Linked DNA regions of Homo sapiens. The protein of the gene in region 4 interacts with the protein of the main gene of each other region in a pairwise test. Each region holds a gene or a part of one and is shown on either strand. Other genes may lie near its edges. The genes, in order: PRMT3, UMOD, TOB2, TMEM132D, TMED5, SAMD12 and EFEMP1.

What was found.
Region 1: the proteins of TMEM132D (region 4) and PRMT3 interact in a two-hybrid assay, tested with the Homo sapiens proteins (one large-scale study listed by BioGRID).
Region 2: the proteins of TMEM132D (region 4) and UMOD interact in a two-hybrid assay, tested with the Homo sapiens proteins (one large-scale study listed by BioGRID).
Region 3: the proteins of TMEM132D (region 4) and TOB2 interact in a two-hybrid assay, tested with the Homo sapiens proteins (one large-scale study listed by BioGRID).
Region 5: the proteins of TMEM132D (region 4) and TMED5 interact in a two-hybrid assay, tested with the Homo sapiens proteins (one large-scale study listed by BioGRID).
Region 6: the proteins of TMEM132D (region 4) and SAMD12 interact in a two-hybrid assay, tested with the Homo sapiens proteins (one large-scale study listed by BioGRID).
Region 7: the proteins of TMEM132D (region 4) and EFEMP1 interact in a two-hybrid assay, tested with the Homo sapiens proteins (one large-scale study listed by BioGRID).

What each region holds. Positions count from the first base shown.
Region 1 is NC_000011.10:20,393,891-20,397,920, forward strand, and holds part of PRMT3 (protein arginine N-methyltransferase 3), read left to right. Parts: intron 1-1,912; coding exon 1,913-2,072; intron 2,073-3,686; coding exon 3,687-3,831; intron 3,832-4,030. UniProt on the Homo sapiens protein: Protein-arginine N-methyltransferase that catalyzes both the monomethylation and asymmetric dimethylation of the guanidino nitrogens of arginine residues in target proteins, and therefore falls into the group of type I methyltransferases.
Region 2 is NC_000016.10:20,349,754-20,354,371, forward strand, and holds the start of UMOD (uromodulin isoform a preproprotein), read right to left. Parts: upstream 2,963-4,618; 5' UTR 2,936-2,962; exon of another isoform or gene 2,789-2,935; intron 1,426-2,788; exon of another isoform or gene 1,267-1,425; intron 1,087-1,266; 5' UTR 985-1,086; coding exon 897-984; intron 117-896; coding exon of another isoform or gene 18-116; intron 1-17.
Region 3 is NC_000022.11:41,432,524-41,436,861, reverse strand, and holds the end of TOB2 (protein Tob2), read left to right. Parts: coding exon 1-551; 3' UTR 552-3,368; downstream 3,369-4,338. UniProt on the Homo sapiens protein: Anti-proliferative protein inhibits cell cycle progression from the G0/G1 to S phases.
Region 4 is NC_000012.12:129,078,515-129,082,544, reverse strand, and holds part of TMEM132D (transmembrane protein 132D precursor), read left to right. Parts: exon of another isoform or gene 1-96; intron 97-512; coding exon 513-786; intron 787-3,819; coding exon 3,820-4,011; intron 4,012-4,030. UniProt on the Homo sapiens protein: Regulate neuronals morphology via inhibition of the WAVE regulatory complex (WCR), a complex that controls F-actin cytoskeletal dynamics.
Region 5 is NC_000001.11:93,152,828-93,156,857, forward strand, and holds part of TMED5 (transmembrane emp24 domain-containing protein 5 isoform 1 precursor), read right to left. Parts: intron 3,657-4,030; coding exon 3,473-3,656; exon of another isoform or gene 3,431-3,472; intron 3,258-3,430; coding exon of another isoform or gene 3,209-3,257; intron 2,062-3,208; coding exon 1,843-2,061; 3' UTR 1-1,842. UniProt on the Homo sapiens protein: Potential role in vesicular protein trafficking, mainly in the early secretory pathway. Required for the maintenance of the Golgi apparatus; involved in protein exchange between Golgi stacks during assembly.
Region 6 is NC_000008.11:118,615,033-118,619,062, reverse strand, and holds part of SAMD12 (sterile alpha motif domain-containing protein 12), read left to right. Parts: intron 1-4,030.
Region 7 is NC_000002.12:55,881,858-55,885,887, reverse strand, and holds part of EFEMP1 (EGF-containing fibulin-like extracellular matrix protein 1 precursor), read left to right. Parts: intron 1-4,030. UniProt on the Homo sapiens protein: Binds EGFR, the EGF receptor, inducing EGFR autophosphorylation and the activation of downstream signaling pathways. May play a role in cell adhesion and migration. May function as a negative regulator of chondrocyte differentiation.

The DNA.
Region 1 (4,030 bases), on a different chromosome or scaffold from region 4:
CTTATATAGTTTGGAAATATTTTGTTGTGCTGATTAATTTTTGGTGAATTAGATAGTGAATGATGCAGTTTTTAAACCTCAGTGACTCAATATTCTGCCACAGTGATGAGAAGTTAGTGACACCCTGCACTGCTTTTATAACAAGAATTCAACTTAGGCTGTAGTCTCTTATAGTATAATGCATTCGTTTGGCTTAGCTATTTTGTCCTAATTCCAAGGACGTGTCTTCACAACTAAAAAATGAATAGGAATTTTTACGAAGTCACATTTCTTCCAGTGCTATCCTGAGGGGAAAATGTAATATTTGCACTGCTCACTGCCTTAAGTTGATCCGAAAGTTAGATCAGTAAATGGACACTGATTTTGTGAAATTCACTAACTACATATATTAACTTCTCTTTGTAGAGAAGTGAAATTAAAATTAAATACTAGGAATTAGGATATTTAATAATATCAGCAATAAGACTTTAGTGTATAGATTTCACTCCACCTTGCCCAGGATGAAAAATTATTGAATGTGTAGAATTCTTTACACGCTGTCCTTAGGAATGTTTTTTTTTTCCTCCAGTTTTATTCAGGTATAATTGATAAGTGAAAATTGTGTACATTTCAGGTATACAATGTGATGATTTGATATGCATATACATTGTGAAATGATTACCATAACCAAGCTGATTAACATCATCACCTCACATTCCATTTTTTTATTTTTGTGGTGAGAACAGTTAAGATCTATTGTCTGCAAATTTCAAGTATACAGTGCAGCATTTTTAACTATAGTCACTTTACAATAGACAGATGCCCAGAACTTACTCATCTTGTAGCTGAAAGTGTGTACCCTTTGACCAACATCTCCTCATTTCCACCACCATTCCACTCTCTGCTGCTGTGAGTTTTTTTTTAATTCCACACAAGAGTGAGATCACACAGTATTTGTCTGTTTGTGTCTGGCTTATTTTGCTTCACATAATGTCCTCCATGTTCATTCATATTTTCATATATGGCAGGATTTCCCTTAAGCAATATCTGAATTTAATACCTGCTACAATAAGGACATGGGCTAGGAGGTGGCTTTGTGTAATGGGAAGAACGTGGGCTGGGAAGGCAGGTTTGGGTTTAAATCTTAGTTCCTCCATAAACAGATATATAACTTTAGGATAGTCACTTAATTTCTCTGAAATTTATTTTTTCCTTGCCTAAAATAGGGATAAATACATCTTAACTGTGTTTTGAGAATAAAACAAGATGTAATGATGTACTGGAAAGATACCTGCTGATCAATAAATATTAGGTTTTTTTCTTTCTACTTTTTTCTTTCTTCCTGGATTTGGTTGAGTATAATTAATAATTAATATTTAAATATATGTTCAGTTTAGCCAACTAATGAAAAACTTAGACTAACAGCATGCTCTTTGAATTCAAATTAAAATAGTGTAGATGATAAATATTTATTATTATTATTATTACTTTTAAGACCGAGTCTCACTGTATTGCCCAGGTTGGAGTACAGTGGTGCGATCACAGCTCACTGCAACCTCCGCTTCCGAGGTTCAAGCAATTCTTCTGCCTCAGCCTCCCAGGTAGCTGGGACTAAAGGCTCGCATCACCAGACCTGGCTAACTTTTTGTATTTTTTTTTTTTTAGTAGAGATAAGGTTTCACCAAATTGGCCAGGCTGGTCTTGAACTGTTGGCCTCAAGTGATCTGCCTGCCTCGGCCTTCCAAAGTGCTGGGATTACAGGCAAGAGCCACTGTGCAAAGCCAAGATGATTAATATTCAATTAAAAGTACTTTCACTAATCTTTCTCAATTGGCCACATAGTAGAAACTTAGGGCGTATTTATTCCTAACATATTTATACTTGTTTTATTGTTATAAGATGGCCTGATAATAATGTCCATTTATTTCTTTAGATGTAGAAGATCTTTATGAACCGGTGTCAGTACCCTTCTCATACCCCAATGGACTCAGTGAAAATACATCTGTTGTTGAAAAATTGAAACATATGGAAGCCAGGGCACTGTCTGCTGAAGCCGCATTGGCCAGAGCACGTGAGGATCTGCAAAAAATGAAGTAATTTATCAATCTTGCAAAATTAATTGTTTTAGATCTCCAGAATAATACAACCTAATGGCAAAGTAGAATATAGTAGAACATTTCATATACTGGAAAGTACAATGTAGATATTTTATCTTCATACTGTTAAAGATATGTAGCATTTTTGTACACTATGGATATAGTTAATTAATATAAAATCTTATAGTTTTACCTATTCTGATATGTTCTGACAAATGTTGTCCTCATGAATGTTTTTGTTCTTTATTGCCTTCCTTTCAGTTTTCCTGTTTGCATTGATTTCTCCATTTTACTTTTTCTATCCTAGTTTTTTAAAGTGGAAGGATTAATCTTTTTGAGGTTTGGGGAAAATACAGGGTTGAAGTTTTTAGTTTTAAAGAATCAAAATGTAGGCCGGGTGCGGTGGCTCACACCTGTAATCTCAGCACTTTGGGAGGCCGAGGCAGGAGGATCATGAGGTCAGGAGTTTGAGACCAGCCTGGCCAACATGGTGAAACCCTGTCTCTACTAAAAATACAAAAATTAGCCGGGTTGTGGTGGTGCACGCCTGTAATCCCAGCTACCTGGGAGGCTGAGACAGGAGAATTGCTTGAATCCGGGAAGGGGAGGTTGCAGTGAGCTGAGATCGCACCACTGTACTCCAGCCTGGGCAACAGAGCAAGACTTTGTCGGGGTGGGGTCGGTGGGGGGGAATCAGAATGTAATTATGGTGTAGTATGAACCCAGAAAACCAGATATACAGTGACAGTTTTTTCCAGTGAATAAATTAGCATTCTACTGGTGTAGTACTTTTCAAAGTTTAATGTGCATAGGAATCAACTGGGATCGTGTTAAAATATAAATTCTGATTCAGAAGATTGAGAATAGGGCCTGAGATTCTGCATTTCTGACAAGTATACCTCACAGGCCTTCCTGTTGGATTTGTAAGCTGTTTGCTGTTGCCTGAGTACCCATCTGATGGTTTGCCAGAATGAATGTCCAGCAGGAAAGATAGTAGAGCCAATTGTAGTTCCTCTTCCCTGTTTCAGAATTTTTATGCTAGGTAACCAAGTAACCAACACCAGCTCTACCTTTTGCCCCTTTGAACTTCTCCCTTTTATATACCTTATGGATTCCTAATATGTCATGATCTGAGAGGGATCTAAGTTTTAGAGCTGGAGTGGGCGGTGCTGGTGTATGTAAATAATTATCTATTTGGGTCTACTTTCTGCTTACATAATACTCCCAAGAAATAATATGGTTTTAAAGAATATTAATAGAGCTGAAATAAACGACATTGATTCATTTGCTAAAAAAGGATTTTAAAACAATAGAAATAATAGAGGATTATAAAAGTAATATGCTTATTTGTTCAGTTGAAAGACATAAGGAGCTACAATCTGCGGTTGGCATTGCTTTTGTGGTTTGTAGAAGGAGTATGTATAATTGTTTCTGAATATTGCCATTGCTTCAGATCCAGCAGGGGGAGCTTTCAGTTGTTCAAGATAGAATGTGATTTAGAAGACTCATCACACTGTACTCCCTCCCCTTTCCTCTTCCTCAACCTCTAGCCTTTCCTTTATTCATGGTCCAATAAACCTGTCTCAAGGGTGTATTTCAAATTGATTACAGACAATTTGCTCAGGATTTTGTGATGCACACAGATGTCAGAACCTGCTCGTCATCTACTAGTGTCATTGCGGACCTCCAGGAGGATGAGGATGGTGTTTATTTCAGCTCATACGGGCATTATGGGATACATGAAGAAATGCTAAAGGTTAGAAAAGAACACAAATGCGTCAAATCCATACTAAAGGAAAAATAGAACAGGTTCTTTCTTAATATATGTGTGCACTATAGGAGACCTCTTTTTTTTGGGTGGGGAGAACTGCTTTTTAAACACCTCTTTGGTGCTTGGTATCTCATCTTGGGTTGAAAATATTACAAGACTGGGCACGGTGGCACATGCCTGTAAT
Region 2 (4,618 bases), on a different chromosome or scaffold from region 4:
CATTTTATGTTTTCTGCTTCCCTGGCTGGTGAAATCTTCATCAGGACCCTGCTCAGTGTCGCCTCCTCTCTGCGGAGTCCTCCAACTCCACCTGGCTGGGCAGTTGTACTTTGTTCCTCCGTAATAAAAATAACCATTAAAAAAAAAAAGAAGCTGTTGTTTATTAAGCAATTACTATATGCCAGGCAATAGGATGTGCACTTTTCACTCACTATCTTGTTGAATACTTCCCAAGGGCCTCGTGAGGTCAGTTTTTTATGTATCCTTATTTTAAAGATGAGGAGACTGAGGTTCAGAGGGATTAAGCCCCTTACTCCTTTGGTAAGAAGTAGAACCAGGATAAAAACGCAGATGGCAGGACCACAAAATATGTGCTTTTAACCAGGACACCGCAATAGTATTCATCGTGCCCCAACGTACTCCAGGGAGAAAATGAAAGTGGGGTGACAGCAAATCTCAACCCAATGGAATGACCTCTTAAAGTTGAAAGGGAAGGTGTTTGGATCCTCCTGCATGGGTTCAAATCTCCTATGTGATAGAGTATGTTTCTGACTTCCAATAAAGGGCCTGCAGGCCTTAGAGATGTTCTAGCCCCTTGCTTTTCAATGTGTACTCCAGGGACCCCAGTATGAGCATCGCCTGGAAGCTTGTTAAAAATTCAGCATCTCAGGTCCTACTGCAGATCTGCTGAACCAGAATATGCACTTTAGCAAAATTTCTAAGTCAGTCCTGTGCATATTGAGTCTAAGAAATGGACTTAGAATGAAGACAATGCAAGTCTCAAGTGCGATAGGAGGATTGAGATCACCTCTGACAGGTGCTACATTGCTTCCCCCACACATTCACACATACACGTGCATACACACATATACAACGCACACACACTTTTCACTTACTTGCTTCTGAGGTGTCAGTGGCTGCAGTTGTGATGAACCAAGAGGCCACCACCACCATCAGCATCCAAGTCAGAGATGGCTGCCCCATCCTTTCTGCTCTTCCCGCTACTTCAGGTCTAGATAGCACCTGCCCAAAGGAAAGACGGGTTGGCCCTTTGAATTTTTCTCTCTGTCTCTGATGTCTGGTGTCCTGTGAACAGAGATGGATGGGACAAATGCATGATCTAACTCTCCTCCCCACAGCTGGAAGGAGTGCTTTGATTGTATAGTATACAACTCCAGGAGGTGTCACTTATATGGACTAAAAAATTGCATAACACTGCAGCCCTTGTTTTGCTGGGACTTTACCCCTTGTACTCCCCCTCCTTACCTCACCAACATCCCAGTCTTGGCTCCCCAATTCTCAGCACATTGCACATTTTGAAGAACTCAGTCATTTGGAGCAGGAAGTAGCCAGATGGAATAGTGTTCTGGACTCACCACTTTACTGAAGGCAGCTTTGGATTTTAACTGATCCTCTGCCTGGAAACTTTCAATTTGCCTGGATCACTTATTCATTCAACAAACATCTATTGAGTAGCTACATTGTGCCAAACAGGGAGCTAGTCACCATGGAGAACAATGAACATGGCAGTCTGCTCCTTCATGCAACTCACATATCGTAAAGAAGTGGCTTGAGACGAGCAACTTGAGAGGTAATTAACCTTCACAATGCATTTAAATGTTTCTGGAGTGGTCACTTACTATTTCTTCCAATTGGAAAAATAGTCCAGGGTGGATGCCAGTATTACCCCAGTGTTTATAGCAGCAAAATAGGGTGGCATGTTGGTTAAGTATGTAGGAGCTGCAGCCTGCACCTGAGGTTCAAATCCCTGCTTTACTGATCACTAACACTGTGATGTGGGTATTTCAGTTTACTAAGTCTCCGTTTTTGTCTGTGAAATGGAGATTGTTGCTTTCACAAACTGAATATCTATGATGGGCCAGGCTCAGTTCAAAGACATTCATGTGCTCAAAGGCATTGGGTCCTAGAGCAACGTTTTCCAGATCTTCGTGACCATGATGTACTAAAAGAAAAACATTTTATGTTGCCAGGTGCAGTGGCTCATGCCTGTAATCCCAACACTTTGGGAGACTGAGGGGGTGGATCACAAGGTCAGGAGTTTGAGACCAGCCTGGCCAGCATGGTGAAACCCCATCTCTAATAAAAATACAAAAATTAGCCGGGCATGGTGGTGGGCGCCTGTAATCCCAGCTACTCGGGAGGCTGAGACAGGAGGATTGCTTGAACCTGGGAGGCAGAGGTTGCAGTGAGCTGAGATCGTGCCACTGCACTCCTGCCTGGGTGACAGAGAGTCCATCCCCCCCCCCCAAAAAAAAAAAGACAGAAAGAAAGAAAAACATTTTATGTCATGATCTAGTGCAGTCGCTTCTGCATGTATGTGCACACACACATAAAATTTTATAAGACAATTGATATCCTTACTACATTAAGTGATTTAATTCTTACCACAACCCTATGAGATAAGTATTATCCTAGTTTGCAGATGAGAAAACAGGGGGACAAAGAGGCTAACTGCTTGCCTCAAATTTGTATTGCTTACTGACATATTCTATTATATTTAATTAAAAGAAGTCCCTGGATATAACCCACAAAAGGAATGATTTTATGACCCGCTAATAAGATGCGACCTAAAACACTGCATATTGTCACTGGGATTAACTAAGATGACATATGTCGAGCAGGGCCCAGCACATAGCAAGTTGTTCATTGTTGTAACCCTGGTACCTGGCACATAATAGGTGCATAACTAATATTCATGGAATAAGTCAAAAAATAGTAGTCATTGTTACTAGGACAGAGAGGATCAAAGAGAGGAAAACTAACTTACTAAAGATCATGAAGCCAATAATTGGCAGAATAATGACTCAAATCCAGGTCTGACCCCAGTGTCCAAGGTCTTAATTTCCTCTCCTACCTCCCTCAAATAGGATGGGGAGAAGCTGGGCTAGGAGAAGACAGCTACAGATAGCCTTACCTGAAGCCAGAAAGGTAGAGTTAGTCTGGTCATGATGTGCCTCATACTTATATATACACATTTGCCCCAGGCTGGCAATCTCTCCTCCAATTAGTCTCTAGTTCTGTTTTTTGATATTGTTTTCTTGGGGGTGGAATATTTTTTCCTCCTGGCATAATGTTTGCCTTGTCCAAGCTGTGAGGTTGTTGTTGTTCTTTTTCCTAATAGCTAGAGACCCCAAATGATTGACATTGGGGGGTCACACCTGTGCCCGGAAATACAAGGTCACTGTTTCGCACCTTCTAACAGCAAGAGATTCCATAGTTAGAAATTAACTGGGAAAGCAGTGCCAAGGTGCTGGGCTTCTTCTTGGTCACTGACAAGGGCAGGGTGGGATCAAGGAGCCAGGCAGAAGCCAGTATCTGAAGCCAGGCTGCATAAGGACAAAAGGGATATTCACTGCCCCAGATGGGAGGTGCACCTGTCTTGGAGAGGGCACCCTTCTGAAACACCCATTCTCATGAGATCAGCCTTAGAATCCAGACACAAGCAAGAGAGGAGCTGAGAATGGCTGAAAGTCAGAACCAGAAGGTAGTTCAGACATCACTGGACCTGACCCACTCTGTACAACAAAGAATCAGGTCTGATGACTGGGAGGTCCCTTTGGAGGCGAAATAAATTTGCACTTAAATAGACTGACTTTGGAGTCAGTCTGCCTCCTTTATCTGGTGTTTATTGTGTGGCAGTGGGCTCATTTCTTAACCTTCCTGAGGTCCAGAGGTCAATTTCCTTGTCTATAAAATGAGAATACCCATCTCCCACAGTAGTAATAGTAACCAAAGGAGATGATGCAAGTAAAGTCATATAGTAATGATTATATTCATGGAAGTAGTGAAAATTCTGCTTTGCTGTTGTGCAATCACTGAGGTAGAAAATGACAGAGCCTGAGTTAAAACCATGTCTTCAGACCCAGTTCAACATACATGACATTCCAAAAGTCAGTGTGAGAGTGGCTGTCATCATGTTGAGAAAAATAAAATATGTGTGAACTTGGGCTGAGCAGGAAAATATCACCATGATCACTGCATTGATCTTTTTTTTTTTTATACTTTAAGTTTTAGGGTACAAGTGCACAACGTGCAGGTTTGTTACATATGTATACATGTGCCATGTTGATGTGCTGCACCCATTAACTTGTCATTTACATTAGGTATAACTCCTAATGCTATCCCTCCCCGCTCCCCGCATCCCACAATAGGCCCCTGGGTGTGATGTTCCCCTTCCTGTGTCCAAGTGCTCTCATTGTTCAATTCCCACCTGTGAGTGAGAACATGCGGTGTTTGGTTTTTTGTCCTTGCGATAGTTTGCTGAGAATGATGGTTTCCATCTTCATCCATGTCCCTACAAAGGACATGAACTCATATTTTTTATGGCTGCATAGTATTCCACGGTGTATATGTGCCACATTTTCTTAATCCAGTCTATCATTGATGGACATTTGAGTTGGTTCCAAGTCTTTGCTATTGTGAATTGCTCTTTTCAGGACATTTCTCCATCCTGTCCCACTCAGTGGTAGGGTAACCACTGGCACTGGTGTTGTCATCTCCTCAGGATTATGTCCAAGGAGTGGAAATTCTGGGTCAAAGAGGTAGCACAGCTGTAGGAATATTGACTCCTCTTCCCAAACAGCACCCCAGAGAATTA
Region 3 (4,338 bases), on a different chromosome or scaffold from region 4:
CCAGCCCTACCTTCATTCCCCGCTCCGCTCAGCCCATCACCTTCACCACCGCCTCCTTCGCTGCCACCAAATTTGGCTCCACTAAGATGAAGAAGGGGGGCGGGGCAGCAAGTGGTGGGGGTGTAGCCAGCAGTGGGGCGGGTGGCCAGCAGCCACCACAGCAGCCTCGCATGGCCCGCTCACCCACCAACAGCCTGCTGAAGCACAAGAGCCTCTCTCTGTCTATGCATTCACTGAACTTCATCACGGCCAACCCGGCCCCTCAGTCCCAGCTCTCACCCAATGCCAAGGAGTTCGTGTACAACGGTGGTGGCTCACCCAGCCTCTTCTTTGATGCGGCCGATGGCCAGGGCAGCGGCACCCCAGGCCCGTTTGGAGGCAGTGGGGCTGGCACCTGCAACAGCAGCAGCTTTGACATGGCCCAGGTATTTGGAGGTGGTGCCAACAGCCTCTTCCTGGAGAAGACACCCTTTGTGGAAGGCCTCAGCTACAACCTGAACACCATGCAGTATCCCAGCCAGCAGTTCCAGCCCGTGGTGCTGGCCAACTGACCATCTACCTGCCCGTGGGGCCAGGAGCACCCAAGACCACAGAAAAGAGAAAGGAAAGGCCAAAAAAAAGAGGAAAAGAAAAATGTACAAAAAGATTTTCGATCTTCTCACTCTTACTTCTAGAAAAAAGATCCAGCCCAGGCACGGAATGGGAGGGCCCTGCAAAGCACCCAAGTGTGTTTCACTCACCCCTTACCGCTCGCCCACCGGCCTGTGATTTATTTGGTTGGTTTGGGTTTTATATTTCTTTTTCTTTTTTTTTTTTCTTACATGTAGTTTTCTATATAACATCTTTAATGAGTGGCTTCCTGTGCTAAGAATGGTCCAGATGTGAACTGCTGCTCCCTGCTCCTCCCTTCCTCCTTCACACTCCTAGTTTAGGATTGATGTGTCCAAGCTCATAGGGAAGAAAGAGCTGCAGCTGGAGCCTGACCCTCCCTGGAACAGGGAGAGGCTGGCCCGTGTCACTGCCTCTGTCACCCAGCTATCCTCGCACTCAAAGCCATCCAACCTCAGCAGGCCTTCTCGGGCCCTGCCACCTGAATAGGTCTGACCCCAGTCCCCACTCCCTTTCAGGCTGGGCCACAGGGAGTTGCTGGCTGGCCACTTGACACCCTCCCCCTGGAGCTGATGTCTGTGACTACAGGGAGATTAGCACTTCGTCTAGTGAAACTCCTTTCATCTCTGTCCTATGGCCCCACCCCACCATTCCCTCTAGGCCCAGACCATCATCATGGCCCTGGCCATTGATGTGTATGGGCTTTCTTTCCCTCATGCAGCCCCTTCTTCCCCAGGCTGGATGTTGTGGGTAGGGAGGGGTGTGTGTGTGTGTATTTGGTTTGCTGTCCTTTTTTAAAGGATTCCAAGCCATGTGAAACTTCCCTTCTGGATGTGATTCTGGGTCGCAAGTCCTTATTTATATGTGAGGCTGGGGAATGGGCTGGGGGTATTGGCAGTCCTTTTGCAGGGCAGTGTGTGTGGTGGGGTGACACCGCTGTGGCTTAGCCCAAGACACTCCCAGAGGAAAACACTGCAGAAGGAACTGGTTTGCAGACTGTGGAAGGATCTGCAGTTTTGTTTTTGACCAAAAAAATAATAATAAGTTAGCTCTGAAGGGCAGAGGGAATACCCAAGCCCCTGATGCCTATGAGAAGTCCCTGGACTTCAACCCTCCTGTTGTTTGGCCTTAGCCCAGAGGGAGCTGCTCACCTGAGCACCCTTGGGGGTGGGCAGAGAGGCAGGGTGGGATTTTAGAGTTAGTGTCTGTGCGGGGGCAGCCCTGAGCCTGGAGTTGAGACTTTGGGGTCTCTTAGTTTGGAGGTGTTGAGTGCATTTGTGCCCCTGCCTGGTTGAGAGCTTCTTGGTACCTCTTGCCACCCCTTCTCACTGCCCTGACCCAACCCCACTGGACCTTGATGCTGCGAGGAGTGGTGTCCTGACGGACTCAGCACTCCCGCCTGATGTATTGGATCATAGGAGAGCACTTGCTCTCCTGCCTCTGCCAGGAGAGGGCTTGTTCCTCCAACTCTAGGAGGCCAGGCAAGCATGGACAGGAGCCAAGGGAGCAGGGTCATTAACTTTTTCTTCTTTGCAAAGTGGGCACTTGGCATCAGGGTCCCAATCACCAGAAAGCACCAAAGCCCCTGGCACCCCACCCACTCCATCCTACCCAGGGACCCCAAGTAGGCAACTGTTATGGCAGTGGGTCCAGCCCAGGCCAGCACTGCCAGCCTCCTCTCCCTGCAGTAGGCACCAGCTCTACCTCCCCCGGCAGGCAATGTCCTGGCTTCTCAGCCCAGCACCATCTGTTCCCCTAGACTTCTCAGGGGCCAGCCCAGTCTGGGCCACCCTTTGTTTCCCTCATCCTCGGCTCCCACACAGGTGACAGACCCAGCAGATAGCTTCTCTCTGGGAAAGGTTGGATGCTGCCTTACATCCCCTTCTAGCCCTCCTCCCATCCACACACACAGGCACCCACCCACACCAGGTCGGCTTGTTTCTCACATGTAGGGAGAGAGGGGAGACCAACCCCTTTGTGTCTTTTGAAATACGAAGAAAAATGTGTGTTCAGGAGCATGACTCCAGTGCTGCGCTCTTGGGCCCAGTTCAGTCTGTCTTGTCTCAAATCTAGGCATTTTTGCTTCAATTTTATTTTTTTTAAGAATACAAAAACAGAAATCTGCACTAATTTACCTGGTTTCGTAGGAAAACTTTTTTTTATTTTTTACATTTTTTGGTGTCCGTTTGTATTGAATAATTTGCTACATTTGTAAAATGTAAGAGGTATATAATATATGTATATTTCTAACGTAAAAAACATAATTTTTTTCTTTTCAAGATTTTTTCTTAAAAAGATGAGAGAAACATATTTTTTCAGGAAAAACAAACTTTAAAAAAAAAAGAGGAGAAATAAAACCTTTTCTCCCCTTTCCCCATCCTCTATCTATCCCTCTTTCCCAGGAACAAATCAAAAGGTGGATTATCTTCTGAAGAATGGAAACTGTTAGTCCAGAATGATGTGTTTTTCTCAATGCAGTGAGTTATAGATTCTCTAGTTTTCTCCCTAGGGATGGGAAGGGGGCATTGAGGCAAGCCTGGAGAGGAGCCCGGGGAGCAGGGTCATGAACTTTTTTCTTTAGTGAAGGAGGAATACAATCAAGGGTTTTGTATTCAGAATGTTGTGCAATATTTTGGAATGGGACATTGGTGTGTTTAGAGATTTTAGTTTAAAAACAAAACAAAAAGATTGATCAAATCTGTACAGTTTCTATTGTTCCAGATTTTTTTAAGTTTGTATTAAAAGCATGATACATAATAGCCTTCTGCCTGCTCCTGGCTTGCTTGGTTTCTGGGGTCCCTTTTGGGATGGAGAGAATGGGAGTGGCCCAGCCCTTACAGACTCCAAGAAACGATTGGTCCTCCTTACAGTGACAGCCTCGGATGGACATAACTGTCCTGGTGCCCCTTCTTGACCACCTATCCATCCCATCAACACAGGATACATCATTGTGCTTGCTACCGCAGATGCTTTTCTACACTGGAAACAGGTTCCACAAAGTTAGAAACCGCTCCAGTTCCCTTAGCCAGTTGGTGGTGGCAGCAGAGCCTGGAGAACGGGGTACTTCATGGCTCTTTAGGAATTGTCTATTCCTGGGGGGAGGAGAGCGGGGACAGCCTCCAGCCTACTCTAGATCTAGTACTTGATCCTTAGTACTAGATCCTTAGATGTGGGCAAGGATGAGAACAGCTTGCCTAAGCCAGGTTCCATCCAAAAGCCCGGTGCTTGGATTCTCAACCCTTTTCTTGGGCTGGACAATTTCGGAGCTGCCTTAAGAGTGAGACAGCCCAGCCCAGAGAAAGCCACCCTTCTGCCAGTGGCCGATTTCCTTAGGAGCTCTGCTATCTCCCAGTGGCCCGGGCCATATTTTCCCCTTCCCAGGGCCTGTGCCTATCAATGCTGCCCATCTAGGAGAGAAACCTCCCACCTTGGCCTCCCTCTCAAAGTGCTGGGATTATGGACGTGAGCCACCATTCCTCATCCTGTTGAATTTTCACAGGGATTGTTCATCCTCACAGGGATTGTCTCCATTTTGCAGTTAAGAAATAGGCTGGGTGCAGTGGTTCACATCTGTAATCCCAGCACTTTGGGAGGCCGAGGCAGACGGATCACTCGAGGTCAGGAGTTTGAGAACAGCCTGGCCAACATGATGAAACCCCGTCTCTACTAAAAAAAAAAAAAAAACAAAACAAAAAACACAAAAATTATCTGGGTGTGGTGGCGAGCGCC
Region 4 (4,030 bases):
ACTGGTGCTGGCCAGAGGTCACTCTCAGCTTCTAGCTGGGTGGAAATCTCTACAGCTTGGCTCACAGCATGCACCTCACTTCATCAGAGTGAGCAACTGCAAAGAACCAAGGAAAGAAAACACAAGCAAGACAGAAGTCACAGGCTTTTCAAGTCTAGCCAGGAAAGTGACCATCCAATCACTTTTGCCATAACTTTTTCATTGGATGAAAGAAACTAGGTCCAGCCCACACTCAAAGGGAGAGGTTTACACAAAGTAGTAAACCCCTCACCAGGAGGTGAGGGGCCACTGTGAACACTTTAAACTCTGCTGGCTGCACCGGCCATGCTGATGGGTCAGTGCTCATGCCAGAGCAGTGGTTAGTATCTGAAGTTCACCTCTGCATGTCTGGCTATAAACTCCTTGAAGTCTCATGGCCTACCTACCTCTGCAGCCCCCACCAGGCTCCACACACGGCCCCTTACAGAGGACCAACAAGTAACTGTCTGCAAACTGCACTGCTTCTTTCACAGGCCTGCCGGGGACAGTGAAGAGGAGGAGGATGATGAGCGGAGGGGCCGCGGCTGCACCCTGCAGTACCAGCACGCCATGGTGCGGGTCCTGACGCAGTTTGTGGCTGAGGCGGCCGGCCCTGGGGGACACCTGGCCCACCTGCTGGGCTCAGACTGGCAAGTGGACATCACGGAGCTGATAAATGACTTCATGCAGGTGGAGGAGCCCAGGATCGCCAAGCTGCAAGGCGGACAGATCCTGATGGGGCAGGAGCTTGGGATGACCACCATTCAGGTAAAAAAAAAAAAAAAAATCCCCAAATCAAGATCTCTCTGTCTTCCCACCTCTGCTCTACCTAGAGGAGAAACCAGCTGTTTGTCATTGCTGGGAATGGTATCTATTTTTAGGATGGGTAAATTCAAAGAAATTGTGGAGTAAGCAATACAAGCGATTTTGGCTGGGTGTGGTGGTTCACGCTTATAATCCCAGCACTTTGGGAGGCCGAGGCGGGCAGGTCATGAGCTCAGTAGTTTGCGATTAGCCTGGGTAACATGGCGAAACCCCATCTCTACCAAAAATACAAAAAATTACCCGAGTGTGGTGGTGCATGCCTGTGGTCCCAGCTACTCGGGAGGCTGAGGTGCAAGGATCGCTCGGGCCTGGGAAGCAGAGGTTGCAGCGATCTGAGATCGTGCCACTACACTCCAACCTGGATGATGGAGCTAGACCCCATCTCAGACAAAACCACAATGCAAGCCATGTAATGATGTGATGAGAATCTCAAAATTCCTCACATATTACTTATAGGGGAGAAACTCTGGGCTGGCTCCCATGGTGGCTCACGCTTGAAACACATGATTTTGCCCAAGCCATGGTAGGCGTTACCATCTTGGTAAACAAGCTTTTGAGGTGAGCTTACCTGATCTGAATCACAGGCACGGCCAGCAACTTCCTGCTGAGCCACTTTCCGCCACTGAGCATGGTCACCTAAACCTTCCCACGGCTTCAGGATATTGTGGCCGCCCCTACCGAGTCACAGCCGCGGGCCTGATGAGAACCTGAACAACTCAGAAATGTGCTAAAGGACGAAGTGAAGTGATTGTGCCTCCATATGTCTCGTGGGCCCCTTCTGCTGGGGAGCGGGTGACGGAGAGGACCAGTGGCAACACTTGGGTTTTGAAACACTTTAACAAAACAGTGTTCTGGGAGGCTTGTAAGGGTTTGGTCATTTACCTCCCAGCTGAGAACAAAGCAAGAGATTGTTTTCTTTCTGTGTACATGTAAGGGGTGCAAGTGCAGCTTTGTTACCTGGACATATTGCGTGTCTGCCTTGTTAGTGTAGCCATCACCCAAATAGTGTACATTGTAGCCAAAGGAAGAGTGTATTACTCAGCAGCTGCCCCATCTGCAGGCAATGCGATTGTCTTATCAGGCAATCTGTGAGGTTTCTAAAACAGCTGTGCATGAGGAATCATTATAACTGAGACTAGATTGGATCGTGGAAGATTTAAAACATATCCATTCTGGAAAATTGGCTGGTATATCTAACACTTCATTTTATCCAAGGAGGAAAATAAATGGGTTTGGGCCGTAGACCAGGAGTCGCATGCTCTAATGATCTCTAAAGGCTGAGAAGCTACCATCAGTGAGGAGAGTAGGCTGGGTGTGTGCTGAAAGACAGACAGCAGCTGATTTTCCTCTGAGTGTTAGAGAGACAACAGGGAGTGGTGGTGCCTGTGGAAAAGGGGCAAGCTCTTACTCAGAGCCAAAAGCTGCCAAGAAGAAACGCAAGTCTACTGCAGCCATATGTTGCAATTTTCCAGAAAAGCTGGAAGTCTGTTTTTATATGCAATCTTCTGGCTCTCTAAATGATGGTCATTAATTCTACCTTAAAATATGATTTATGTCAGACAAAACATATCTGTCTCATAGATGAGAGCTTGCAACCTCCACAATTGACTAAGAAGTTGAAAGACCTGAATCCCTACCATAAATCTATAGGCTAAACTGATACTGATGCCCAGAAACTCACAGCGAGATGAGAATTTGGTATTAACATCTTCCCTTAAGTGATAATTTAAGTGCAAAGGGGAAAAGCCATACCGTTCTGAAACCAGGTGTCAGGGAAGAGGAAGTGGGCCAGCTTCCCACACATTAAACATGAACATTATTTTGGTGAGGCCTCTACTCCTGCGAGCCTTGGTTCTTTTCTCTTTTTTCTCACTGTGTCCTCCTGAGTCATAAATTCACTTGTCCACTTTCTTCTGGGGACACACCTCTCATGCTCGCCACCATTTAAATTGTCCCAATCGGACCAGAAAGTGAAGGTGGCATTCGGGTAGAAGTATGGAGCTTTGATTCCTGGTCTCAAAGGGTCCTGGGAAAACTGCTGTCTTGACCTACATCATAAATATCACCAAAAACTTGAAAAGAGAAAGAGGTCGAGAAAGCAGGAGAATGGAGGATGAAGCCCATCTCTTCTAGAAGGAAGGTTGTTATACGGGGCTGTGAGGAGTCTAAGACAGCTGTTTATCATTTGGGCGAAGGGTGAGAGGAGGAAGAAGTGATTCCACAGACGTTCCTCAAAAGCAGGATTTCCTGTTCAGGGTCTAAATTGCACATAAGCCTCATTTTCCAGGTCATTCCAGGTGTCCAGAGGAGAAATGAGGCTTTGGGTTGTGGGCATCAGGCGTAGACATTCAGAACCTACGTTTATCAGAATATGCCCAACGATATTCCTCATCAACAGGCATCATGCGCTGCGTTTCCCAAAGTGTACAGTGTGGCCTCCAGTGACACGCGTGATTGAGATGGACCAGCAGGATCCGCCTTCTAGTTGCACATTGGTTTTTATGTGCAAGAGCGAAAGCTATCAATATGTAACCAGTACACCCAACCCGTCATTCACTGGTGATAGGAAGGCTTTTGAAAAAAACAAATCATTTAAGTAAAATAAATAATTTTAAACAAAATACACACTGTGCTGTAGAAGAATCATAAAGCTAATAGTCGAATGAAAACGTCAGTTCCTCCTGTCCAGGATGGAGCATGGTGGGAAACGGAGCTGATGTGTGGGGTGTGGGGAGAGGGCCAAGCCCTACCTGCCCACTCCTTGACACCACCTTGCTTTATGCAAAAAATGCATTACATTTTCTCAAGCAATACATATGATTCAGAAGGTGGTGTGAGTGGGAAAGGCCTGTTCTCATTCATTCTGGCTCACATGTTGCCCTGCCGCTGCCTGCACACTGGCACTTCCTCCTGTGACTGGAGGCATTGCCTGGACCACAGAAAGCCTTTCCTTGTCATGTCGCTTCTGCCCTCCAGATCCTGTCTCCTCTGTCAGACACCATCCTCGCTGAAAAGACCATCACTGTGCTGGACGAGAAGGTGACCATCACAGACCTCGGGGTGCAGCTGGTGACAGGGCTGTCACTCTCCTTGCAGCTCAGCCCAGGAAGCAACAGGGCCATCTTTGCCACTGCAGTGGCTCAGGAACTTCTGCAGAGGCCAAAACAGGTATGGAGGAGGGCTTGAG
Region 5 (4,030 bases), on a different chromosome or scaffold from region 4:
ATCTTATTGACCTTTGTTCTGCAAGTGTTGCAGAGGATACCCCTAGACACCTGAAGCATTTTCTTGGCCAATTAAGGTAATTGATCATATACGGCATTTACCTCATTTTTAAAAACCTTGCCAGTAGGGAAATCTAAGCTGCTCTTCTCCCAGGGGCCTAAGAGGGAAATGTATCTCTTTTTATACTACTATGAGTGTAAATGAAATCACTCTCTGGTTATCATTATTGCTCATCAAGAATTCCAGCATTACTAACCTGTTGAGGGGTTCTATACCCCAAATTTTAAGTTTGTTTCTAACTCACAATGTAGTCATAAACAACGTTATAAATGGGCATAACTTAAAAATTATAGTTCATTCATGATGAAGTTAAATTACTAGTACTTGAGTAAGACCCCCATAGACTTCAAAAAGCTAGATGGCAGAAACTTTGTTGTATATATGGGTTATTCACATTTAGGTGTTTAAAACTTGGGAGTCTATGTTTCTAATCCTTACTTCAACATCAATAAATAAAGTGTTCAGAAAGGCCATTTTAATAAAAGTTGTTATAATAAAAATTTTTAATAAATATGTACACCCAGTGCTAAACCTTACAGTAGGGCTTACATTTTATAAAATGTACCTGCTTACAAAAATAATTCAAACCAGAATTCTTGTAGAAAATAAAAACCTACAGCCAAAGTTTCTTCCAGCTAACTGGAAATTAATCATCTCCTTTGATTTATGTTATGAGTAGGATGTCATGATGAGCCAGTCAGATTCTAGATATTTATTTATAGTTCTACTTAAGTGAATTTTATTTTGGATTAGGTTTTCTCAAGTTTTTCTAAATTCTTTCCTGTTTCTGATAATTCTTAGAGCTCAGAAAAGGAGATATTTATTTATGGTAGGCCCAGATCATTTTAGCAATATTTCCTTCATAACTGCTGGTAATAATGAATTATCCAAGTCAGCAATCATGTTAAAATTAACATAACATGATTATTAACTGTTGACAGATATTAACTTGACAGATACTATTAAAAATAAACTTATTTTACCTCACATTTAATTTTAAAATCCTACACTTTAGTTAAGGGTTAGAGAAAATGTGTCCCTATGGAGGAGGAAGCTTTTAAACTATATTCTTCATTTCAAAGAGAAAACATGTCCTAATTTTAGTAAGTGTAACTTTGTGTTTTTAAGAATCGTGAAAATGTCAGCTTTTGGGAATGTAAGCAAAGTACAAAGACTAATGCTTTCTGCTAATATGTTACACTGAAATGTATTTGGTTATAAAAATCTCAAAAACCTAATTGTATTTCAAAGCTATTATTCTATTTACATTATAGGAGAGATGCATATGTAAATAGAGAAAAGTTGGGCTTTTGTAGTCTAAAGATTTATTCAATCCATCATTAGGTAATTCTCAGGTGATTTATAACTTAAAACTGAAAACTTCCACAGTTAATTTGTAACTGCCGCATTTACAAAAAAGTTCTGGGTAATAGAACCTGTTAAAAACAGACTGGTGTTGCAATTAGGCCCAATACTCATTTATTTAAATCACCTAAGACATTTGCAAAATTTTTCAAAGTTAGGAAAATGCAGTTATTAATATGGCTTCATTCAGTTAAACCTATATTCTGCAAAATATTCCTGTTACACACTTAAGTACAACTGGATCAGCAGGATTACTTGCACAGAAAGTGAAGACTTAATTTTCACATTAAAATTATACCTGTTTCCTACTTTTATATCTCAAAATATTTTGGAGAAGACCATTAATGGTCTTGACTGTAACAGTTTATTGCATTTTTATGCCTCATTTTTCAATGTTACGTACTCTAGTTTGGAGTTTTAAGTTCTACTTTTCCTCTTATCTTCAAACAGACTCTTCAGCATATAAACTTGAATGGCTGACACCACCACCATGACCACTAAATTAACCATAGACCAGAAATTGACTCTATCAAAGTTGCTTTCTTGTATGTTTCGATCACGAGCTTCAAATGCTCTAAGCAGAGTTTGTATGTGCCCACTTTTGCTTAGTCTGGACTTGATGCTGTTGATGGATTCCTGGAGATAAATAAAATAATTTTATTATTAAAGAATGCTCAGAAATTTTAACTTAATTAAAAAATGAGGCTGGGTGCAGTGACTCATGCCTTGTAATCCTGGAACTTTGGGAGACTAGGGCAGGAGGACCCCTTGAACCCAGGAGTTCAAGACTGGGCTGGACAACACAGACAGACTCTGCCTCTACAAAAAGATGGGTATGGTAGCACCAAGTGTGGTCCCAGCTACTTGGGAGGCTGAGGTGGGGGGATCACTTGAGTCCAGGAGGTTGAGATTGCAATGAGCCATAATGGTGCCACTGCACTCCAGCCTGGGCAACAGAGTGAGTGAGACCCTGTCTCAAAAAAAGTTTTTTTCAAAATATGCTTTATGTTTTTTATCCAAACACAATTTTAAGTTAGATGGCTGCACAATTCAATTAAAGGGCAGGTACTATTTATATTACATTAGAGATTCTCTGTAAGGTTATATAATAGTTCTCCTGACATATTTATATTGTTTATAAGTAGTTATTTAACAAGGGAACAAAGCTACTGTGAATTGAAAATAGGTAACATGAAATTATTCTGAGTGGCATAGCATCAGGAGTTTTACGTACATTATCTCTTTCTTAGTCCTCACACAACCAAAGGAAATGACTAAGGTTTTTTTTTTTTTTTTTTTTGTCGGGGGATGGAGTTTGCCTAGGCACAATCTCGGCTCATTGCAACCTGAGACTGTGCCTGGTCAAATGATTAAGTTTTTAGAGATGGGGTCTTGCTATATTGGAGTGTAGTATCTATTTATATGTGTGACCATGGTTCACTGCAGCCTTGAACTGGGCTCAAATGATCCTCCCCCTAACCTTCTGAGTAGCTGGGATTACAGGTACCTGCTACCATGCCTGGCAAATGATTTCATTTTTAAAAACCCAATTGATATAACTTTAGGTATTTACCTATTACATAATGCATGTGTTTATAATATTTCCTTCTTTGTATGTTTATCTGAACAATTTAGTATTCAGTAAAACACCCAATGTTTTAATACCACAAAATAGTTGTGAAATTAGAAAACATTTTACTTTTCATATGCCTGCTGTATAATCAGAAGCATAATCTATTTATAATTTAAAAATTCTAACTGCACATTTATAAAACAAACTTACCAAGATGCAGTCTTATTTGCACATCTGAAGCTATTTTTATAATAGGGTCCTGGAAGATAAGTTATTTGAAAACTATAAAAGGGCTATATTAATATAAAATAAAATTAAGCTGATACTTGAGGTCAAAGTATTTATGGCAAAAATAAAATATTAGAAACAGATTTTCCTGGATAATGCAGATAAAATGCTTAGTTCAGTAACTTATTACCATAGTAAGGCCTCTGGCTGTTAATAATTTTTATTTTATTAGAAGACCATACTGACCAGGATGTCTTCCAGTTTCATATCCAATATATCTGTGCCAGTAATATATTTCTTCCAATCTTCTTGTTCTTGTGCCTGTTCTCCCATATTATCCAGGATTAATTCAAAGAAAATCACCTTCTCAGAAATGGTGCTGAATGTATTGTCAAAGCAGAACATGTAATCACCAACTTCAGTCTCTACACTGTATAAAAAAAAGTACATGTTTTAAGTTACCTGTATTTCTATTTGTGATGAAAAGCAACTAAAGGTAAAAATAAGAAGTAACAGGCTGAGTGTGTTGCCTCACACCTGTAATCCCAGCATTTTGAGAGGGCAAGGCTGGTAGATCACTTTAGCTCAGGAGTTTGAGACCAGCCTGGGTAACATGGCAAAATCCTGTCTCTACAAAAAAATAACAAAAATTAGCAGAGTGTGAGGATTGCTTGAGCCCGGAAGGTTGAAGATGCAGTGAGGCATGATCATGCCACTGCACTCCAGCCTGGGCAACAGAGCAAGATCCTGTCTCAAAAAAAAAAAAAAAAAAAAAGAAACCAACAAAACAAAAAACAAATAACA
Region 6 (4,030 bases), on a different chromosome or scaffold from region 4:
CCATCCCGTATAACGAGGCCAAGCCATGGCCAAGTAATGATCAGTTTACCCAACTTATTGAGAAATGCTGCTTCAGAGAATAAGGAGTTTTGCCAGAGGAACTGGAATAGAAAATACAGTTCGAATTGCTTAACATTCTAAGCTTTAGTCTCCACATCTGGAAAAAATGGGCTCACTACTGCTTTCCTCCTGGGAACATTGTGAGGATTTTTTTTTTTTTTTTTGAGACGGAGTCTTGCTCTGTCGCCCAGGCTGGAATGCAGTGGCGCGATCTCGGCTCACTGCAAGCTCCGCCTCCCGGGTTCACGCCATTTTCCTGCCTCAGCCTCCCGAGTAGCTGGGCTACAGGTGCCTGCTACCACGCCCGGCTGATTTTTTTGTACTTTTAGTAGAGACAGAGTTTCACCATGTTAGCCAGGATGGTCTCCATCTCCTAACCTCGTGATCCGCCCGCCTCGGCCTCCCAAAGTGCTGGGATTACAGGAGTGAGCCACCGTGCCCTGCTCATTGTGAGGATTAAATAAAGGAGAGGGCTTCTAGAAGGGTGTCTGGAACCTGCATCCTAAGTAAATATCACTTGTACTCTCATCCCTTCTCTTAGGAAAAGCTATACTATTTGGCATGTGTTTTATATCCTGAATTTTCACTTATTCATGCCAGCCAGTTTTTCTAATTAGTAACAAATTAGAAGGTTTTTTACTATGTGTAACTTTTTCTTAAGTAAACTTGAATTTGTAAAAGTGTTACTAGCAAGTAGTTCACTCATTCACTTTGCTGAACCTGCAGCCGTGTGTTTAAGATGAAAAAGAGGTGCCCTTTGTTTATTGTTTTGTAACTACCCTGTGTTATGTTTTCTTCTTAGTTTATTTGCAACATCCTATTTATGTCTCCTAGTCTGCTTGTGACCCATGCTTTGCATTTATGGGCAGCTTACAGGTATGCTTTCCCGCCACAGAACAGGGTACGACCTTATGGTCTGCATTTGGATTAGGATTATACTGGCATACATTGCCTTTTTTTAAAAAAAAAAAAAACAAAAACAATGTCTTGTGAAATAATTTAGCAGGACTGGGGACTAGGACCTCTTGGAAGGAGGTAGCAGGGACCCCAAACTAATCCATTCTCTATGGACAGACTGTGTATAGACGGTTAAACCTATTGATGTTTTCTAACAGAAATGGGTTGCAATATTATTCAGGGAGAAGAAAAATGTGGATTCATTGGGGACAGTGTCGTATTCATCTTTGTATTCATCTCTGTATTCCAGGGATGGCGCCTGGCACTTAGGAGGCCCACAGTCATTGTTTCATGAATGACATATAAATGCACGAGTCTCCAGAGCTAGAGAAGGATTTTTTTTTTACCCCTCATCCCCAATTCCTTTTCTTGCTTTGTCCTCAGATATTTATGAAAAAAATAGGGAGGATGGACATTGTACATGGTAATTTCTATTCCAGGTCTAACAGAATAGCACCTCTCATGTGGCAGAAAAATGATTTCCAATATTCAGCACTCACCTCTCTCCCCAAGAAAAACATGTCAAATGCAAGACTGTGTGCTCTTAATGACATCTATATTAAGGGATCTGAATTTTCCATCATAAATGAACATGGTAGCTTACCAAATATCTTCTGATAAGTCATTCAGTGCTCAGGTTCTATGTTTTTTCTCCTGTAGAAGAGTGAAGAAACTACACATCACCAAAATATTGTAAGGCTAAGTAATAATAACGGTGACTGGGAAAATGGGAAATGAGATAGCGTCAAACGTTTGTGACAAATAGAAGCAGTCACGGTAAACACTGGGCTTTGCAGCCCCATAAATGATGACTTTGTACCCAACTTGAACTCAGAACTGCATCACAGAGAGTAAAAGGAGTCACATGGGAGATAAAAACATCATTTTTATCACAAGCTTATAGTGGGTTATTTTTTTCTGACTTTGGGTTGGAGGGTAAGTGGGCTTGCTAATATTGTATGCAGCAGTGAACTTACCCGTCATAGGGATGCCTCCCTCTATGCTAGTGGTCCTTAACCTTTTTGGCACCAGGGATCAGATTCATGGAAGACAGTTTTTCCATGGGGGATGGTTTTGGGATGAAACTGTTCCACCTCAGATCATCAGGCATTAGATTCTCATAAGGCATGTGCAACCTAGATCTCTCACATGTGCAGTTCACAGTAGGGTTTGCACTCCTCTGAGAATCTAATGCCTCTGTTGATCTGACAGGAGGTAGAGCTTGGGTGGTAATGCTTGCTTGCTCACTGCTCACATCCTGCTGTGCGGTGTGGTTCCTAATAGGCCACGGACTGATACCAGTTCACAACCCAGGGGTTGGGGACCCCTGCTCTATACCACTGGCAGCTGGAGAGCAGAGAGAACATGGGCTCCTGCAGCAGGCAGGTGGGACCCAAAGGAAGAGGTGGGGAACCTATGCTTTGTGCCTTTTCACAGACTTGCTCATCAGAGAGTTGATTTCTCCTCTCCTGAGGAGGACCCAGAGGGTAAAGAGGGAGACCAGAAGTGTAATTCTGATGGATTTCCCTTCATAGAACACAAGAAGCTCTGTCCTGCCTCTGTGTGATTCTCTTGGTGCTAGCTCACCTATGCTTTCCTAACTACCTTTTCTTGTTGGGAACATCATTATGAATGTACCTCTTCTACTGGTGGTACTTTCTACGGCAAGGACTATGTCTCATGTCTCATCCTTGAAGCTTGAATGAATGAATGGAGACAAATGAAGGAATGGGTGGGTTTATGACTGCTTTTGATTCCCACAGTAACTCCCATACACATTTAATGAGAACTTCCAACTGTGTTCCTCTACAGAGCAGATGTCATGAAAGCAGTGAGACGATGGACAAGTTTCCCTCATAGGTACTTATCCCTGCAGCAGCTTCATTGTGTGATTGTTAAACTAATTACTCCCTGATTCTCTCCCATTCACTTATTCCTGAGGATCTTTTTTTCTTATTTTTATTATGTTCTCTATACCACCAGATCTGACTTTCCTGCACCAGAGTTTCTATTGATCACTTTGTTTTAGGAAGGAGAATGACGGCTAGAAGTTCGTCATTGAAAATTCCTTCCAGTGACTGTGTGAACAAGAATGGGGCCTCCAACCTAGTTTGAAACTTGCTGTGGCAGCAGTTCCTGCCACCCCCATCTCTTTTGTAGCCCTCTTAGCTAGTTCGGACAGGGTTTCAGTCTAATTGTACTGTTGTATTTCCTAGCCCAGCCCTTCCTAATTCCTTTTATCCCACCCTTTCTTTCTCATCTGCCTTGCTGTTTTCTCACGCCTGAATGAAGAAACAAGCGCTGGTGCTGAGAAGCAGAAACTGGGAAACCTTTGCTGGTGTAGCTGTGTTCTGTAATGCTGAGTCACAGTGGATGACGTGGTGACATATTACAAGGGTAGGGGGAGCTGGGGATCTGAAGCCCATGCTTGAACTCTGGCGAGTGAGTGTCAGCTGTTGTGCATTTAATTATGAGAAAGGGGATATTGCAAATGCTCATTCACAGGCATTCAAGCAGATGGTGCCTTTCTGTTGATAAGCAGTAGAGTAGCACCCATGTACAAGGAACTCTACGAGATGTGGTGGGGAGTGTAGTAAGAAAGGGAGCTTAGCCCACTCTGACCCCTGCCAGTCCCGGCCCTCCCCTGCAGCCTCCACTGGGGGAAGGAGACAAGAGAAGCAGATTAGACTGAATGATATAAGTGCTAAATAAAAGTGCAAGCACCATGACGTGGGAGGTCTGAGAACAAATGGAGCATTTAGTTCTGAGCTGGGTGGGGATAGCCTAACGAAAGGGGTAGCATTGAGTGAGCTTTTGAGTAGGATTTTGATGGGTGGGAATCGGGGAAAGGGCACAAAACTGAGTAGTGTATGTATAATGCATGCTTCTTAATGGATTTCCCCCATGTCCCAGGGATGTGGTAGTTTAGCCCTTTATAGGAAGGAAAACGAATGGGGAGCCTCCTAACTCATGTCTGGTAAAATCCTTTTCCTAAGGGCTCTATTATCTGCCT
Region 7 (4,030 bases), on a different chromosome or scaffold from region 4:
TTGGGAAATATGAGTCAGACTGAAGGGAAGGAGCCAAAAACATAGAGAATGAGGGCCTAAGCAGGGACTTAATGGACACCACAGAGATGTGGACAAAGTTGTCTCCATTAACTTTGAGAGAAAATCAAATGTGCGGTTCCCTAGACGTGGGGGTCGGTGTGATAAAGAGGCTAGAAGAGCTGAGCAAAGATTAGCCTGTGTTATTTAAAGCAACTAACGGTGCCAAAGTCAGCAAGAGAGGGACCTACAATAGTATAAATCACTAGGAGGGAGCACGTGGGCACATTTTTGAAAAATGAGGGAATCACCAAATATTGCCATTAGCTATTGTTAATGTATTAGAATGACGAAATGTGTTATGGTATTTTAGGAAGCACAATCTATTATTTTGTTCTTTGGTAATGTTAACATTAGGCTCTGTCTACATAGTTCAGAGAGACTCCTTATGTTGTTCAATCCAGACTCTCTAATCCTGCCTTTAAGGCCTTGAATTTTGTTCACGACAGATCTAGCATTTCATGATCCTCTTCAACCAGGCACTGCACCAGGCTCCTCACACAGAGCCCCGGCAGCTGTGCTGACGCCATCTGTCTGCCATTCTTCTCATGGAAACCAGTTTTGTCTTATCAGCATTTTCTAATGTGAGCTGCTTTCTGCCTAGAAACAGCTTCCTTTTCCTGGCAACCCATGTATCTCGTCTTCTTCAAAATGCAGTGGAGAACCCACCTCTTCTGGCGAATCTGCTTTATACCTCATAGCCTCTGCACTCCTGGACTCACTTGCTCAACATCATTTTTCTTTTACTAACATCTTACTGATTTTGCTGTGTTTCTCAGATATACCTTGTTACTCTGCTTCATACATTTTTAGCTCCATTAGGTAAAACACTGATCCTACTTTTCCTGAAACTTTAGGTACCAATTCTCAGCAAATGGTAATAACTCATTTATCCATTTATTGCACAAATATTTATTGAAAATCCACCATGTTTCATGCACTATCCTAGGCACTGGGAATACAGGGGGGAAAATAAGACATAGATCCCCCATCCCCACCCAAAGAGCTTGGGTCCAGGTCCCAGGAAATTTATTAACTGACTGCCTGAAAAACCAAGTGAGCTTAACTGTCAAGGATAAATTATAATCATGCAAAAACAACAAAAAATTTCTCCCCATAGTAATTTGTCCTAGATTATCAGGAAAATCATGGCTGACCTGAGTAGTTTCCCTTATAAATAAAGCATTGCTTTTGCTAATGCAGATATTCTCCCATACAAATGTAGGAAACAGATTTTTCTTACACACCATGGAGATACCTACAAAAGGCTGTGTTTGCACTATGGGAAGTCAGGAGCAAGTAGAGGGCAGTGGACTGTCATCAACACTCCTGGGAGAGCCACCTTTTCCAGAGCATCTGCACAGGGATGGGTATTCTGCTTTGAGTTTCTGACATCATTGTCCATTTTAGTAAATTTTGTATCATAGTGAGCTTTCTGGTATTTATGACAAATGGAAATGCATAGAAGTAGAAAAGCCAAACATAACGGAATTTAACAATGTATAATAATTTTATATGACTTTGCATAGATGTGTAAATAAGTAATTCCAGGATCTCAAAGTATAATTTTCAAAATAATATTGTGTTATTTAAATAAACTAATAAATTGACATTAACGTAATTGAAAATAGGTCAAAGAAATTCAGTCTGTTTATAGCCTTTAGCATTAGATAAACCACCAACAGCAAAGGAGAGGATAAATATTCTAAACCACAGCCAGAGAAGCCATAAATGGAAATGTAGTTAGTAGCTGCCTCCTGGTCACAGAGGTCACTTTTTTGACAATTTTATGAGTCCCAGTAAGTAAAATGTGTAATCACCAGTCAGTCCTAGGTGAGGCAAGTCTTGTTGCAGCTTTGTTTGGGTGTTGGTGGAGAAAGGGAAGGAAAGTAGTGGCAGTGAGCACAGTGGTATTTGTTTTTTGTTGTTGTTTGTTTTTATTAATTTAACTCACCTAATATTTTTATTAAATAACCCACTCAGAAGGTAAACAGACCTCATTCTTAAGAAGGAGTAGCACAGGTTTTTGTGTTTAAAATCTACTTAATGATACATTAATTCCACTGGAAATGTTAGCCTATTTATCAGACACTAAGAAATGAGCAACAAGAAAGTAGGAAGGAAGTCATAGGGCATCAGTTGTAGGAATGCAGCGGGGTGGAGGCAGTTTGCAGATAGATGTCAAAAAGAAAAGCCTCAGTCACTGCTGAGGCCTCCCTTAGAAAATGCAGCAGCCAGCCCAGGGCCTTGATCTGCTGCCAGAGGAAACTTGCCACATCTGAATCTAACATTGCCGTATCTCTCAGGACTGTTATCACTGCAAATGCTGGCAAATGTTCTTGACATAAAACAATAGATACTCTGCTGTCATTTCTGCATTAACGAGTCATAAAGCTCTGAAGAAACCCCAGTAAAAAGGTTTTCATCAAGTGCATCTGAGAAAATAATAAAAGACACAAAAAACAGCAGATAATTTCAAAGCAGGATTGTTGCACCATCGCATAGTACCTAAAAAGGACAGTTTGTAATCACTGACTTGAAAATAATACTAGTAGTAATTATAATAAATTTCAAAACAAAACAAAATAACAAAAACCTTAGCCAAAACTTTAAAACCAAGTTCAAAGAATTACGTAAGTGGATGCTTTATAGATTATTATCCAATAAATAGCCATACATCACTCAAGTATTTTTCATCTCCCCTCCCTCTTTCTTATCGAAAGAATCTCTCTTATCATTTCCACACCCAGCTAAGTGAAGCTGATTTCTGAGGACAACCCTTTTACAATCTCAACTTCATATATTATTATACTGCATAGTGTAAATGCGCAGTCCTCCTTGAAAATACAGAAAAGTGAAAGGCAAACCAACCTCAGGGTCTACTCTCAGAGATTCTTAGAGGGAAGACAGAAATTGGGTGAATTTTTTATTATTGATTCTTTCCCTACTTTTTCTTCCAACATACTACCATGAGTCTGCCACAGTGATGATCTAAGACCTCTGAAATCTGCCTCAGGGGTCTTAAATCATCACTGTGGTAGACCCAGGGTAGTATTTTGGTTTTTATACAAAAATTGTCATCTAGGAATCACAAGTTTTATGATATTGTTAATGAAGCTTAGAGTGGTTGTTGAAGAATGATGAAATTATATGATCCTTTTTTGTGTACTACTTAACTTCATGATATAGGAGAGCCGAATGAATATAAAAGTGATACAGATAAGGCAAAATTAGATTTTACTTATAAATTACTGTAAATATGAATGTACACACACAAATTTATATCACCTTTTGATCTGAAAGAAATTTCTTATAACTAGTTCATTATGCTATCACTGAGCATTTTTTACTTTTCTAGAACTGTAACCTGCATACTCATTAAGGCACATTTAGTAAATTATTCCAAGAAGTACACTGCTTTGAGAAAATATGGATTTTTAAACTACACAGGCTAGAGGAATATGATCAAATTGAATCCTTTGCATTCTGAAATTTGCAATGAAAGATTTATACATACATGTTGCCCTGCTGTTTGCAAAAACAAACAGCTACAGGGAACGTATAATATTAAAGGTTGATTACACCCAGTTATTGGTTAGATTTTTAGAAATTTGTCAATGGAAATTATCTCAAATACAATATATTGGATGGAAAAGCAAGTATCATACAATCTATTAAAATTTTTAACATACAAAACAATACCATATGTTCTAATGGATGCATCCCTGTCTAACAAAAGTACAAAAACATCTCAGGGAAGGATTCATTCCTACCGAGACAGTGGTAGCTGATGGGTCAAGGGATGAGGATGGTGTGAGGCTTTAGCTGTATCTGAAATGTTTCTTAACAAAACAAAATGAGCCAAGACCAACATGACAAAATGTTAGCATTTGTTAAATCTGAGCAGTACTCACTGGTATTTGCAAAATTATTTTCTGAACACTTGAAATAATTTATAATTTTAAACATTTCC